Regions from separate parts of the Homo sapiens genome. Here regions 1, 2 and 4 are each reported to be linked to region 3. Evidence: microRNA targets listed by miRTarBase, many of them from high-throughput screens and not tested one by one. Region 3 holds a microRNA gene; each other region holds the end of a gene's coding sequence. Distances are from middle to middle.

Region 1 (3,197 bases), 78 Mb from region 3:
TCTGAGATGTCTGAATCAGTCCTGTGGCTGATCTAGACCCCCTACAGAGCCACACTTGTTCTCCCTTGGTGACAGCTTTTTCCCTTCTCAGGGTTACTTCGTGACAAACTGGGCTCCTATGATGTGGCATTCTACCTCGCTGGAGTCCCTCCCCTTATTGGAGGTGCTGTGCTTTGTTTTATCCCGTGGATCCATAGTAAGAAGCAAAGAGAGATCAGTAAAACCACTGGAAAAGAAAAGATGGAGAAAATGTTGGAAAACCAGAACTCTCTGCTGTCAAGTTCATCTGGAATGTTCAAGAAAGAATCTGACTCTATTATTTAATATCTTACATACCTCCACCAGACTGGACTTGCTTTTTGAATTTTAAGCAAGTTTCCTTTCCTTTTATACAAATTGCAAATTTCATATTTTTTTAATCACATCCTAGGAATAGCACAATAATTGGGAAATAGAACCCTTATCACTAGAAGAACCATTTTCTGCCACTAAATATCTCTGATGTTTCCATGAGTCTGAGGGCAGAGACTCTGGTATATGAAAACGTCTGAAAGTCACATATTGTGAAAATTTGAAGCTATCTCAGTAAAAAGCAGCTTTGGAAACTGTGAATGATCTTTAGCTTGTACAAATGTTTAAAAATACCTCAGGCTATACTGAAAGGGTTGCAGTTTGGTTAGGAGTGGAAATATTTTGTTTGTTAATGATGTCTTCAGTTCTGGTACCTCTGTTTTACTTTCTTATGCTCTTTGGAAACTTTTTGCAAAATTTAAGCCTGGGTTCTAGATAATACCAGATCTACCTAAACCTCAAGTCTATGTTAAAGTTGCTTTCCTGCTGTTAAATAAGCTATGATATTAAGATATTCTGACTTGCTCCAGTGTCAAGGGACCTTCTGGGAGCAGGTGCTAACATAGTGTTCAGAATCAATATGTGAGATGAAAAGGATCCCCTCCAGGAGGATCCTGAGCTGTTCAGAAATCATTTAAGTTTACAGCGTTGTTCCCTTTGCGTTTGCAGTGCGTTTTACTCAAGTAGCCAGAAACACCCCACGTTTCTGAATTTGTTTAAACTGTAACAATAAAGTAAAATAGAATGCATGAAAGATATTCTGGCGATTGTAACTTAGAATTTTTCTGACTTCTGGATTTGTTGGCACTAGAACCTGATATTTAAAGTCTTACTGAGCAGCTATCAAGTGGCAGTTACAGGCACAAATTGGTGGAGGCTGGAGGATGGGGAGGGGAGCAAAACCCTTTATATTTGTGAAGAAAATATCTGTAGCTGATAGAAATAATTGCTTAAATTGGTTTATGAAATTAATGAGTCTGAAAAGGTTAAAAGCACTTATAAAAAGAACCAAGTCCTACATTTCCAGAACTTTCTGGCAAAAATTTGCACTCATATTATTTATCCTATGAACATTCCCATTGTTTTTTTTTGCTATTTATATACAGATTATCATAAGAAAGCTCTCAGTTTGAGGACCCAAAATAAAACCAAAGTCATGCCATGACCCATACTCATTTACAAAAACAAGAACACTTTCCTCTATCCCTAAAATTATGCTTTAGTACTTGAGGCCTTTAAAAGTTAGTGCTTTTGATTGTGAAGACATTCAGCAACTTACTTTGTCATACATGCAGTTGCACCTTACCACTTCTAATAGTGTCATATTTCATATTCAGGGGACTTAGATAATTTGCCTGTGGATGGTTCTTTTGCAGGAAAAAAAATCTACATTTTGACCATACTACCCTTTCATGTCCTTATTATAAGCTTTTAGAAAATGATTTCATTCAGTCATGTCCAGTTATATAAAACGTTACTTTCTCATTTTTGAGAAGTTCAACAAAACATACTACTAAGACCAATCATCAAACCCACTATTATAAATGTTAATTTTGGCTGGGTAAGGTGGCTTGCGCCTATAATCCCAGCACTTTGGGAGGCTGAGGAGGGAAGATTGCTTGAGCCCAGGAGTTTGAGACCAGCCTGGGCAACATAGCAAGATCCTGTCTCTACTAAAAATAAAAAAAAAAATTAGGCCAAGCATAGTGGCTCATGCCTGTAATCCTAGCACTTTGGTAGTCCAAGGCAGGGGGATCACTTGAGCCCAGAAGTTCAAGACCAGCTTGGGTAACATAATGAGACCCTGTGTCTACAAAAAATTTAAAAATTAGCCAGGCATGATGGTGCCCACCTGTAGCCCCAGCTACTCAGAGGCTGAGGTAGTGGAAGGATTGCTTGAGCCTTGAGATGGAGGCTGCAGTGAGCTATGCCACTGTACTCTAGCCTGTTCAACTGAGCAGAACCCTGTCTGTAAAAGAAAATCAAAAACAAAAAATAAATGTTAAATTTTGTTTTAAGTTTTAGCACAGACTCCCCTCAAAACACCTTCTCCCCAATTTTACAGAAAGTAATTTAAAAATGAAAACTTTACTCTGTAAAGACCTCTACAGTGTTTTTCTTTTCAAAATTTGGCTGATTTTAGGAAAAAAGTGATCATCTGAAACTAAAAGAAATTGCTTGGTTAGTTTCCATATTAAAACAGCAGTGACAAGTATATATAACTTAGATCTCAGCATATGTGTTTGTATATTAAACTTCACATATGTAGTTTTCAGTTTAATGGAATGAATCAAACTGGATCTATAACACTGAAAAAGTTCTATTGTAATAGACTCATACGGAGAATACTCTGCTATAATAATATAAAATTAAGAAGAAAAAGTATAAACGTAAGATGCTAAATTCCATAAATGCATATTTAGTACTATGTTTTTTGTGGGAAAAGTTCTAAAAGTTTAAAATGCACAAAGAAAATGAAAAATACTAATATAAAAATTTGTGCTTTAATCTAGTCAAACTAAATCCTTTCTAATTTCTGAATGAAGTGTTACTGCTGCAATAAAGTGACCTGATAAGCCTAAATTTTTTGTGTTCAATCCAGACACTTTTCTGAGAGTCTGAAAAGAATACAGAGTCAGAACTCTGTTTTTATCTCCTCATCCTGTTTTTGATAAGACTCAGAAAATTCTCAAATTCGAAAGGTTCTGGCATTTGAGGCCAAAAAAAGCATGAAAGGGAGTAACATTCCTTTTTATAGATACTCTAGATTGGATACTATTGTAACAGATGGCCAAGAAACTTCCAGAAACATTTTGGTTAAATTTTATTGCAATGGATATTGCTGG
Region 2 (3,000 bases), not on the chromosome of region 3:
GGTTGCTGAAAGGGGAGTCTGCTTTACTGTGGTTACGTTAGGACTTCTCGAAGTTCTGTTTCTTAGGCGGTCATATGCCCTACTTTTAGTAGCAACATGACTAAGGTCTCAAAATCAATGAATACTTTGCAGAGTTGGTGGCATTCATTAAGCATTTACTAAGAAGCACCTACGTGCCAGATTTGAGTTTGATTCTAGACATGTAGAATCTTTTGAGTGCCATCCAACCTCTTGAATACTTTGATGGCTATAAAACAACCCTCAAATGTTGAACCAAACTAGAAGTCTAGTTTCTGACTTCTACACATTGGTAATGTAACTCTGTGGCAACACTGAGCAAGTTTATTCCACATATAGTAAGACTCCCCTTCCCCTTCCCATTCCATGAGTCCTTAATCCCATTTGCTTTTTTTTTTTCTTGGAGACAAGGGTCACTCTGTCAACCAGGCTGGAATGCAGTGGTGCAGTCATGGCTACTGCAGCCTCAGCTTCCCAGGCTCAAGCAATCCCCTCCACCTGTCTCCAGAGTAGCTGGGATTACAGGCATGCACCACTACGCCCAACTAATTATTAAAATCTTTTGTAGGGAGGGGGGTCTCACTGTTACCCAGGCTGGTCTCAAACTCCTGGGCTCAGGTAATCCACATTGGCACCCTAAGTGCTGGGATTACAGGCATGAGCCACTGCACTCAGCCCCATTTGCTCTTCCAAAATTCTGGTTTCTCCAAGACAGGGTCTTGCTCTGTTGCCCAGGCTGGAGTGCAGTGGTGCAATCACGGCTCACTGCAACCTCCCTCTCCTAGGCTCAAACAATCCTCCCAACTCACCCTCCCAATTAGCTGGGACACAGATACATACCACCAGTCTGGCTTTTTATTTTTTTGTAGATCCGGTGTCTCACTATGTTGCCCAGGCTAGTCTCGAACTCCTGGACCTAAGTGATCCTCCCACCTCTGCCTCCCAAAGTGCTGAGGTTACAGGTGTGAGTCACCACACCCGGCCGAAGAGAACATTTTACTCATAGTAGAGGCTAAAGACTATGATAAAATAAGCATTTACAGAGAATGGAGACTCATCCTGTGAGGCCTTAATTTTTCTCTATGTTCAAGGCAGTTAATTGCTCAGAGTATGGGTTTGGAGGATCTGTACCACAAACTTAAAAGTACCAAGCTAACAAATCACTCATTTTGAAAGTCTACTACAAATTCATAGGCCATCTACCCAAATGGATTTTCTCCTATCAACTCTAGCTGCAGAGCAACATGGTGATTCAGAATAGGTGCCTGGATAGGAAGAGGCATACCGTGAATCTAAGGACTGTATTGAATAGTAAGGCTAACAAGAGTCAGGCATCTGCAGGTGCTGATGAACTAGAGACAGGAAGGGACCGAGTTAACATTTCAGGTGGCCAAGGCTCTCCTTGGAAGCTGTAAACCAAGACTGAAGGCTAATTTACTCTCTCTGTCCTGCAAATCTGCTTTGATATGGAGCAATACCCATGGATGCTTAAGTAGCTAGCTACTATATCGGCTTTTTTTTTTTTTGTCCCTCAATTAAATGCCTTAAGACCTGACATTCCAAGAGAAAACAAAAACCATACTTTGGTTTCTAAGGATGTATGACTGGGTCCCGGCCTTCAGAGGATGGCAGACAGATGGGAACACAAGTATAAGTAGACTAGAGTATCCCATAATTGTCAACTCTGGCAAGGTAAAGATGAAGCTGCTTATGTGGACAACTCGTGGGGTACCTAAGTAAATCTGGGAGCCAGGTACGTGCAAAGTGGTCAGTGGTAGAAGCCCTCATGAAGGCAGGAATGCTGCAAACCTCCACTTACTGCCTTCCAGGACCACTTAAGTCATAGTGGTAAGAGCTGCTAGAAGTAGTCGTTACCAACTTGATTACCAGCAATACACAATGATGTCAAGAAGACATTCCACATCCTTCTGTCATCACTAGCTCTCATTTCAACCACTAAAATAGGTAACAGCTATAGACAAAAAAAAAGGGAGACATGAAACATTCATGGCTGTTCAAGTTAGAAAACTATGGCAGCGGCTATATTAACAAAAATACAAACGTGTACACTAATTACAACATTTATCTACAGTCATTTTACCAGTTGTGCAGCCTAAACTGCCATTATCTTGTTTAGTCATTCCTAAGATGCGTTATTTCTGACATCGAAATATCCTGAAATTGGGAAACTATTGACCCAACCCCAACTGTGTTAGAACTGCATGAACACCTAAGATGAAGGACCAGCATCACAGCAGCACATCAGGCCAACAAAGGCAGAAGTCCAGCAGCAGGAGAGGGCAATCGCACGAGGACAGCATCGTGAGGTCAGCTCACCGACACTCTAGGTGTGCAGGCTTATCCTGATGACAAGAGCCATGGACCTCACCATGTGTCTGAAAACCGCAATGTTGCTACTTAAATGCTAAGCCTTTAATGGTGCATTAATAGATGGTTAAGTAGCATATTAGCAGCTTAAATCTACATAAGTCAGCTGTGTACTGACTGTACCTCACAGTAACAAATTCACCAAATCTGTATCTTTTCTTCTTTGTAACAATGTTAAATATTGGTATATCTCAGTTCTCAGGTGTGATTCCAGCAGCTATGGTGAGACCCATTGCTGCTCCTGAATCTCCACTTTCATTTGCCTTCACTGGTGTCACTGTCGCTGTCACTGCTGCTGTCAGTATCACTGTCACTGGTCAATGCAGTTAGATTACTTAGGGCTTCCCTGTTAAGAAAAGAAAATGGAGGATTACACTGCAATTCAACTGGGTGCTGGGGTTCTCGGTGTCTCTGACACTCACCTATAGCCTGTCAGTTTTGAAATCAGAAAAAGGGACCCTGCAGTTGCATTAAACTATATTAGAAACAAAAAGCTTCTAACAGTCAAATCTATAGGCTTTCCTGACTTGCATGACAAATGAAATAGTCATTAAATTACTACATTCTGACTTTTTGAAAGGAAATAGAAGGGAT
Region 3 (3,197 bases):
TACTGTGAGATTTTCTTGATTTAATTTTCCAATCTTTCTATTAAATTTTCCAATTGTTTTTAGCATTCTATTATTACTTTTACAGATCAAGAATTCTAATTAGAATGACTTTAAACTTGTTTGCTGTTACATGAACTTTCTCTATTAAATCTGTGATAATTTTCATGTTATTTTATTCTCATCTTCTCTTTCATATTGTAAGAGTTTCTCAAACATTTGCTCTGGCCTCTTCAACCTTGTCCTTTACCTACTGTATACCACCTTATTTCATCTCAAGATACATTTCTTCAAGCCACTTCTAAACTGCCCCAAACCATACCTGGTCCCTGTGCAACACTCTCTCATTTTACCTCATTCTTTTTCTTTATAAATGTTTCAGACCTTGTAACTATGTTTGTGGAATTATGTAATATATGTATTTTCCTCCCACTGGAGTGTAAGTTCTATGAAGATAATGAATGTAATTGTTTTCACATTATTTTAATAACATTCAACAAACTATGAGTACTTATTGTAGCACTGGTACTCAATGACCATTTTTGCATTTTTGATGAATTAGTGAATATATAAACAAGTCTGGGGGCTTAGTCCAGCCAATAATAAAGCAAGCATTACTTTGCTTTCCTTTGTTATTATTAGTTCCTGCATACACATTCTTTATAGTTGCATTCCTGAGAGGTTCTTACAGTCTTGGGCAGGCCTTGGACAGGGTTTCCTAAATGTGATAAAAATGAGAAAAACTGAAAAACTAACATAACTTCAAACAGAATGCTTGTCTGCCTATGTTTATGGGACTTTCCTGAATACATTTAAAAAAAAAACCTTTGTATTACAGAAAATTTCAACTGTGTGCAATAGTACAGAGAAGAATTCCATGTATCAACAGCCTTGCTTTAACAATAATCAATTCATGAGCAATTTTGTAAACCCACCCAGTTATCATACAGGCACATACTGGATTATTTTGAAGATATTTTTAGGTATCATATTTCATTTATACATTTTTATTATGAAAATCTAAAATATAATGGCTTTTTAGAAACATAACAGCAATGCCACTAACACATTTAAAACGAGATAAATAATTCCTTAATACACTCAGTGTCAATTTTTCTGATTGCCTCATATAAATTTTTTAACAGATGTTTTGTTTGAATATGAATCTAGACAAAGCTCAGCGTTTGGTTACTATATTTCTTCAGTCTTTTTCAAGTGTATAGCTTTTCTTTTCTCTATTTTTAACTTTTTTTGCAAATTGTTTGCTGGAGAAATCTTTTTATTTAATCTAGTAGAACTTCTCATATTCTGAATTTTGTTGCTTACATCCTTGTGGTGTCATTCATCATGGGATTTTGTCTTGGACTCCAGAAAATAACAATAACACAAATTTGTTAACTTCTATAAACTGCTTACTATGGGCCAGACTGTGTGTGAAGTGCTTTATTTGTAATGTTTAATTCTTCATATCTCTAGTTTGTATGTGGTAAGTACAAACCTGAAATATTTTACGTGATTTTTACGTTTTGTAATTTTTATTTATTTATTCATTTATTTATTTATTTTTAGAGACGGGGTCTCGCTGTGTTGCCCAGGCTGGAGCGAGTGCAGTGGTGCAGTCAGTCCTAGCTCACTGCAGCCTCGAACTCCTGGGCTCAAGCAGCAATCCTCCTGCCTCAGCCTCCCTACTAGCTGGGACTACAGACTGGTCTCCATCTCCTGGGCTTTAAGGGACCCTCACCTTGTGCTGAGATTACAGGCATGAACCATTGTGACTGGAAATTTTGTAAAATTTAAACAATGTGATATTACCTATTAATGAAGTCATACTTTATGTATGTAATCTGAAATAATTCAGATAACAATTTTTAAGAATCATTTAATTTAAAATCATGCAGCCTGATTTATAACTGTTTATAATAATAATATAATAATATAATAATGATGATTTCACTTTGAACTTTTAGCTGATAAAAAGATATATTTGCTCTATTTTATAAAACTAATTTTAGCTATGCTATTTTAACATTATATAAATACTTTTTGAATACATTCTTTCAGTAAAATCCAACTACCATTATATTTGCTTTCCTCAGTATTTCTTGGGGAAGGATTCTAAATAGGGGAGCATTTGTGTATTTCTGTATGACTCTGGTTATAATGCCATTCAATGTAAGCCTTACACACACACACACACACACACACACACACACACACACACAAATGCACACACCTCCAGAATGCTGGGTTCTTGGCTCATGAATCATTGAAATTTATATAAAATTTATTTTAAATCCTATTGCAGAAAAGTTCTTAGCACATTCATGCATTTTCATGTGACCATTTTTATACTACAGTTTTAATTTTATATATTTGGGATCATTATTGTTGACCTTTTCTTTTCTTTTTTTTTAATAGAGTTTATTTTAGAGAAGTTTTAGGTTCCCAGAAAAATTGTAGAGTACAGATAGATGTATCCCATATGCTCTCTGTTCCCACACATGCATAGCCTCCCCCACTAGTAACATCCTTCATGACAGAGGTACATTTGCTACAACTTATGAACTTACACTGACACATCATTATCACCCAAAGTCCATAGTTTATATTAAGGTTCATTCTTGGTGTTGTACATTCTATGGATTTGGGCAAGCGCATAATGATATTTATTCACCATTGTGGTATCAAATAGAGTAGTTTCATTGCCCTAAAAATCCTCTGTGTTCTGTGATGGACGTTTTCATGATCACCACTGGTTCAGATTCCCTGCACTTACTAATTCCCAGTCTGCATTTATAATTATTTTCTCCCGGAGTCTCCCCACCTCCTCCCCAAAGTAAATATGGATAAACTGCTGTTGCATATAATTCACCTTGACTTAAAATTTATGGGACATAAGGAGGGAATATACCCCTTAGAGAGTTAAAAACCGAAGTCAAATATTACAACTTCTTGTCCTAAGAGTTCTCTTAGCAACCCAATCTCAGCCTCTCAAGAAAGAAAAAAATCCTCCAGTTAACATATGAAAAGAAACTCACTTTTACGTCTACGCTTGAATCTCCTAAATCACTAAAGGGCTAAGGAAAACAAATGTACTTTTCATATAATATGATCCATTCTTTTTAATAAATCCATTATAAACATAACTGCAGTGTTTTCTTATATATTTATATACTACGTGTAAGGCACTGTCTATATAC
Region 4 (3,197 bases), not on the chromosome of region 3:
TCCTCCCGTTCTTCCCTCTCCCCCTCCATCTCTCTTGCTCCCTTCCCATACCAGCATCCTTTGTCATCCCAGCTGTCTTCACCTGAGTCCAGTTGGTCCTTACCACCCCCATTCTCCTCTCTCCCACCCAGACTGCCCGGTTCCTGGGCCTGACCTGGAGATCAATCCCACTCTGGAGTCTCTGTGTCTGAGCATGACAGAACACGCCTTGGGTGGTGAGCATTTCCTCTTTCCCTGACCCAGCTCCCACCTACCCAGCGTCTCTGCCTCTGAACTGAGCAACTCAGAGTCATCCTGAGGGGTCCCCAGGGGAGGCCAGACTCCAGGGAGGGCCTGACTGGGATGACAGGCTACCTGAGTGCCTTTTCTTGGGCCTCCCTCCAGCTCCTGATCTTCCTCCCTTCCTCCCTTTCTTACCACAGATGGGACAGACAAAACCTCCACCATCTGACGGGACCCACAGCCCAGCGCACCCATAGGCTCCCTGGGCGGCGGGCGGGGGCCAACCCCCAACGGGCTTCTCCGCGACAGCGAGAGGGTGGGCTGGCTCAGCTATATATTCTAATATTTTTCTACTCTCTTACCCTCTTAACTTTTGTTTAACATTGGCACATGCCTTGCTCACTCCCAGGCCCGTCGAGGGATCTCTGCTGAGGCCCGGGGAGTTGGGGGCAGCCAGGATAAAGGGGGCAGGGACTGGCCAGACTGCCTGCCTCTCTCCTTTCCTTCCTCATCCCCACCTGGTCCCATCCCACCCCTGCCTCCTCCAGACCGCTGACCACCTGCCTCTCCCCAAGGGAGCAGACTCCCCAGAGACAAACTGACCACTACCTTGTGGAGCCTGCTCAGAAACATTTGACATTTGGGGTGACGCGCAGGGCAGAGAACCTGCCCTCCAGAATGTTATTGAGAGGAGCTGGGGAGAAGGAAGGGGAGCAAGGAGAGGAAGCTCTCTCTCCTCTCCCTGCTTCCCCTTCACCATTCCCCACATTCTGCAAGGACAGGAGCCACCTTCCTCTCTCTCACCTCCCCTGGCCCTGTTCACCAGAGGTTCTCTATGATTAATTTCTTAGGCCTATTTAAGATACATATTTATATAGTTCTTAACGGTTTTTCTCTGATCATTTCCTCTCATTTTTAGAATCCCCAGGTCTCTCTCAGCCAAGACAGTGGCAGGGAGAGCCTGAACTTTATGAGGGGAGAGGGCAGAGCCCCCTCCTCCAGACCCTCAAGCTCTAACCCATTTTCCTCCAGCCCTGGCTACCCGGATGAAGAGGTTGGAGGTGGGCAGCCAGGGTAGCCAGTGAGGTCAGGAAGTCTGTTGCCTTAACGTCCCCTTCCCCACGAACACACACCCTTCTCCGCTCCCAGGTCTGGTTGGTGAGACTTGGGAGTCAGGAATAAGGGAAAGGGGATTGTTTGGTTTTTGGGTTTTTCCCTAAGCCCCTCCCTTTTCTTTCAGCCTTTTTCCTTCCCCCATTATGTCATGACCTCACTTAAGTGGAACACTATATCATAACCCAGAGATTCGTCCCAGCCCCAGAGTCCGACAGACTGTCTGGTCCCTATTCCTAATGAGGGGTTGTGTTGGGGCCCAGGTGGAGGGAGGGGATTTGGGGGTTCAGACTGCGGGGAAGCCAGGGTCTCCCTCTTCAACGCCCTCCTCCCCCTCAACCCACCTTCCCAACTGGGACATTCTCAAGCTTTTCACACCGAAAAGGAAAAAAAATGTTATTTTTAGATACATTTTATGAATAACTTTTGTTATGAATATGGCTGGTAACCATTGTGTATGTTATTAAAGATACAAAATGTTGGGAAAAAAACAAAAAAAACAAAAAAAAAAAAAATTTTAAAACCACCACCCTCCCTGCACTATCACCCCATTCCCCAGACCTTCTTGCCCCCGCCCTCCTGGTCTGTGGACTTCCCTCTGCTCTGAGCCCAGGGAGGGGGAAGAAGCCAGGGGGTAGGGTGGCCCTGGGAACCTGGCTCTGGGTCCCCACTTCCTCTCCCAGTGCCGGGCTGGGTGGGGTGTCAGGTTTATTTATGTACCTCTTGCACACTCATCAACCTATGCAAGTCCCCCACCCCGGCCCTCCATGTTTCTGTGCCTTTGCTCATCCCCTCAATCTCCCAGGGCTTCTCCAGTCCCCCTCCCACTAGCTGCAGGAAGTGGGATGGATGGGCCACCTCGTTTGGAATCAGCAGGGTGTCCCTCTCATGGGACCCTCCCCTCTCCCCAGCCTGTCCTGTCTTGTTCACTCTCCATCAGGGTGAGCTGACTGTGCCTGGCACTGGGAGGTGGTGAGGGACACCGTCTCACACACACAGGGAGGCAAGAGCTGCCCCCCACCCCACCTGACAGCAGAGTGTGCAGGACGCAGGCGGCCCCACTCTGATGGGCAGGACCCTGACCCTCTCCCGCTCCAGCCCCCTCCCCAGGCCCTCCTCCATGATTTCACCCTCCCTACCCACTTCTGTCCCCGGCCCCACTGGCAGAATCAGCTTTGAGTAACTGTACAGTTTTTCTCGCTGTTGGAGAAGACTTATTTGTTGGAGTTTCACTTGTTTAATGGTCTGGGCTTATTTTGGAAAAAAAAAAAACAAACAAAAAAAACGAATTCTGACCTTCGTTGTGCTACATTTTGTGGGAAACCATTGGCCCTGCCTCTGGCCTGTGTTTCTAAGCCTCAAGCCAAGATCCTTGAGCACCTGGGGGTTGCGGGAGGTATGTGCTGGGCTGAATGACATCATAGGGGCTGGGAGGGGAAGTAAAGAGAAGTTGACTTTATTAACAGCAAAGGTTTGGGGGTGGGGAACAAACAAGTGAAAGGCTCACAAACAGACCACTAGAAAAGTGCTTTGCTGCTCACAATAATGGTGTCTGAACCAGCCCTGAATGCCCTGGGACTCAGTCACTGTCACTATCAGCTTCACTGGAATCAGAAGCTGCAGCTTCACTGCCATCCTCCTGGGCCGAGTGCTCGCTGCCACTGGGGAAGGGACTGGCGCTGCGGCTGTGGCTCCGGCTCCGCTGGCCACCCCCATTGCTGCCGCTGTCTGAATCATTGTCACTGCCACCTTGGGCCTGTCCTCTGTCCTCATCATCAGAGTCGGCATCGTCCTCAGAATCAGCATCACTGCCAAAGATCTCCTCTTTGTCACGGGCAGCCCGGGCCTCATCCTCGCTGCTC

Evidence for each region. The annotated mature microRNA hsa-miR-3135b reads GGCUGGAGCGAGUGCAGUGGUG and lies in region 3 at 1,592-1,613, shown strand. An mRNA with a match to its seed (bases 2 to 7 or 8) in the 3' UTR can be bound and repressed. Matches are read on the target gene's strand: a 7mer-m8 pairs with bases 2 to 8, a 7mer-A1 pairs with bases 2 to 7 and ends in A, and an 8mer does both.
Region 1: the mRNA of SLC16A10 is a reported target of hsa-miR-3135b. The part of its 3' UTR that is shown has no 7-base or 8-base seed match.
Region 2: miRTarBase lists PTCD3 as a target of hsa-miR-3135b. Seed matches in the 3' UTR shown: 7mer-m8 at 754-760.
Region 4: the mRNA of SAMD4B is a reported target of hsa-miR-3135b. Seed matches in the 3' UTR shown: 7mer-m8 at 1,249-1,255 and 7mer-m8 at 2,428-2,434.

What each region holds. Positions count from the first base shown.
Region 1 is chr6:111,221,912-111,225,108 of GRCh38, forward strand. SLC16A10 (solute carrier family 16 member 10) reads left to right here. Exons shown (of 6, transcript NM_018593.5): 6 at 92-3,197. The coding sequence ends at 324. Among named protein-coding and RNA genes, the nearest start is that of SLC60A2-DT, 36 kb to the right of the region's middle.
Region 2 is chr2:86,137,221-86,140,220 of GRCh38, reverse strand. It overlaps PTCD3 (pentatricopeptide repeat domain 3), which reads right to left. Exons shown (of 24, transcript NM_017952.6): 24 at 1-2,752. The coding sequence ends at 2,662. Among named protein-coding and RNA genes, the nearest start is that of SNORD94, 2.9 kb to the right of the region's middle.
Region 3 is chr6:32,748,368-32,751,564 of GRCh38, reverse strand. It overlaps MIR3135B (microRNA 3135b), which reads left to right and starts at 1,586; the gene lies at 1,586-1,653.
Region 4 is chr19:39,383,077-39,386,273 of GRCh38, forward strand. SAMD4B (sterile alpha motif domain containing 4B) reads left to right here. Exons shown (of 14, transcript NM_001384574.2): 13 at 132-215; 14 at 423-2,624. The coding sequence ends at 451. PAF1 (PAF1 component of Paf1/RNA polymerase II complex) reads right to left here. Exons shown (of 14, transcript NM_019088.4): 14 at 2,553-3,197. The coding sequence ends at 2,915. Among named protein-coding and RNA genes, the nearest start is that of PAF1, 6.4 kb to the right of the region's middle.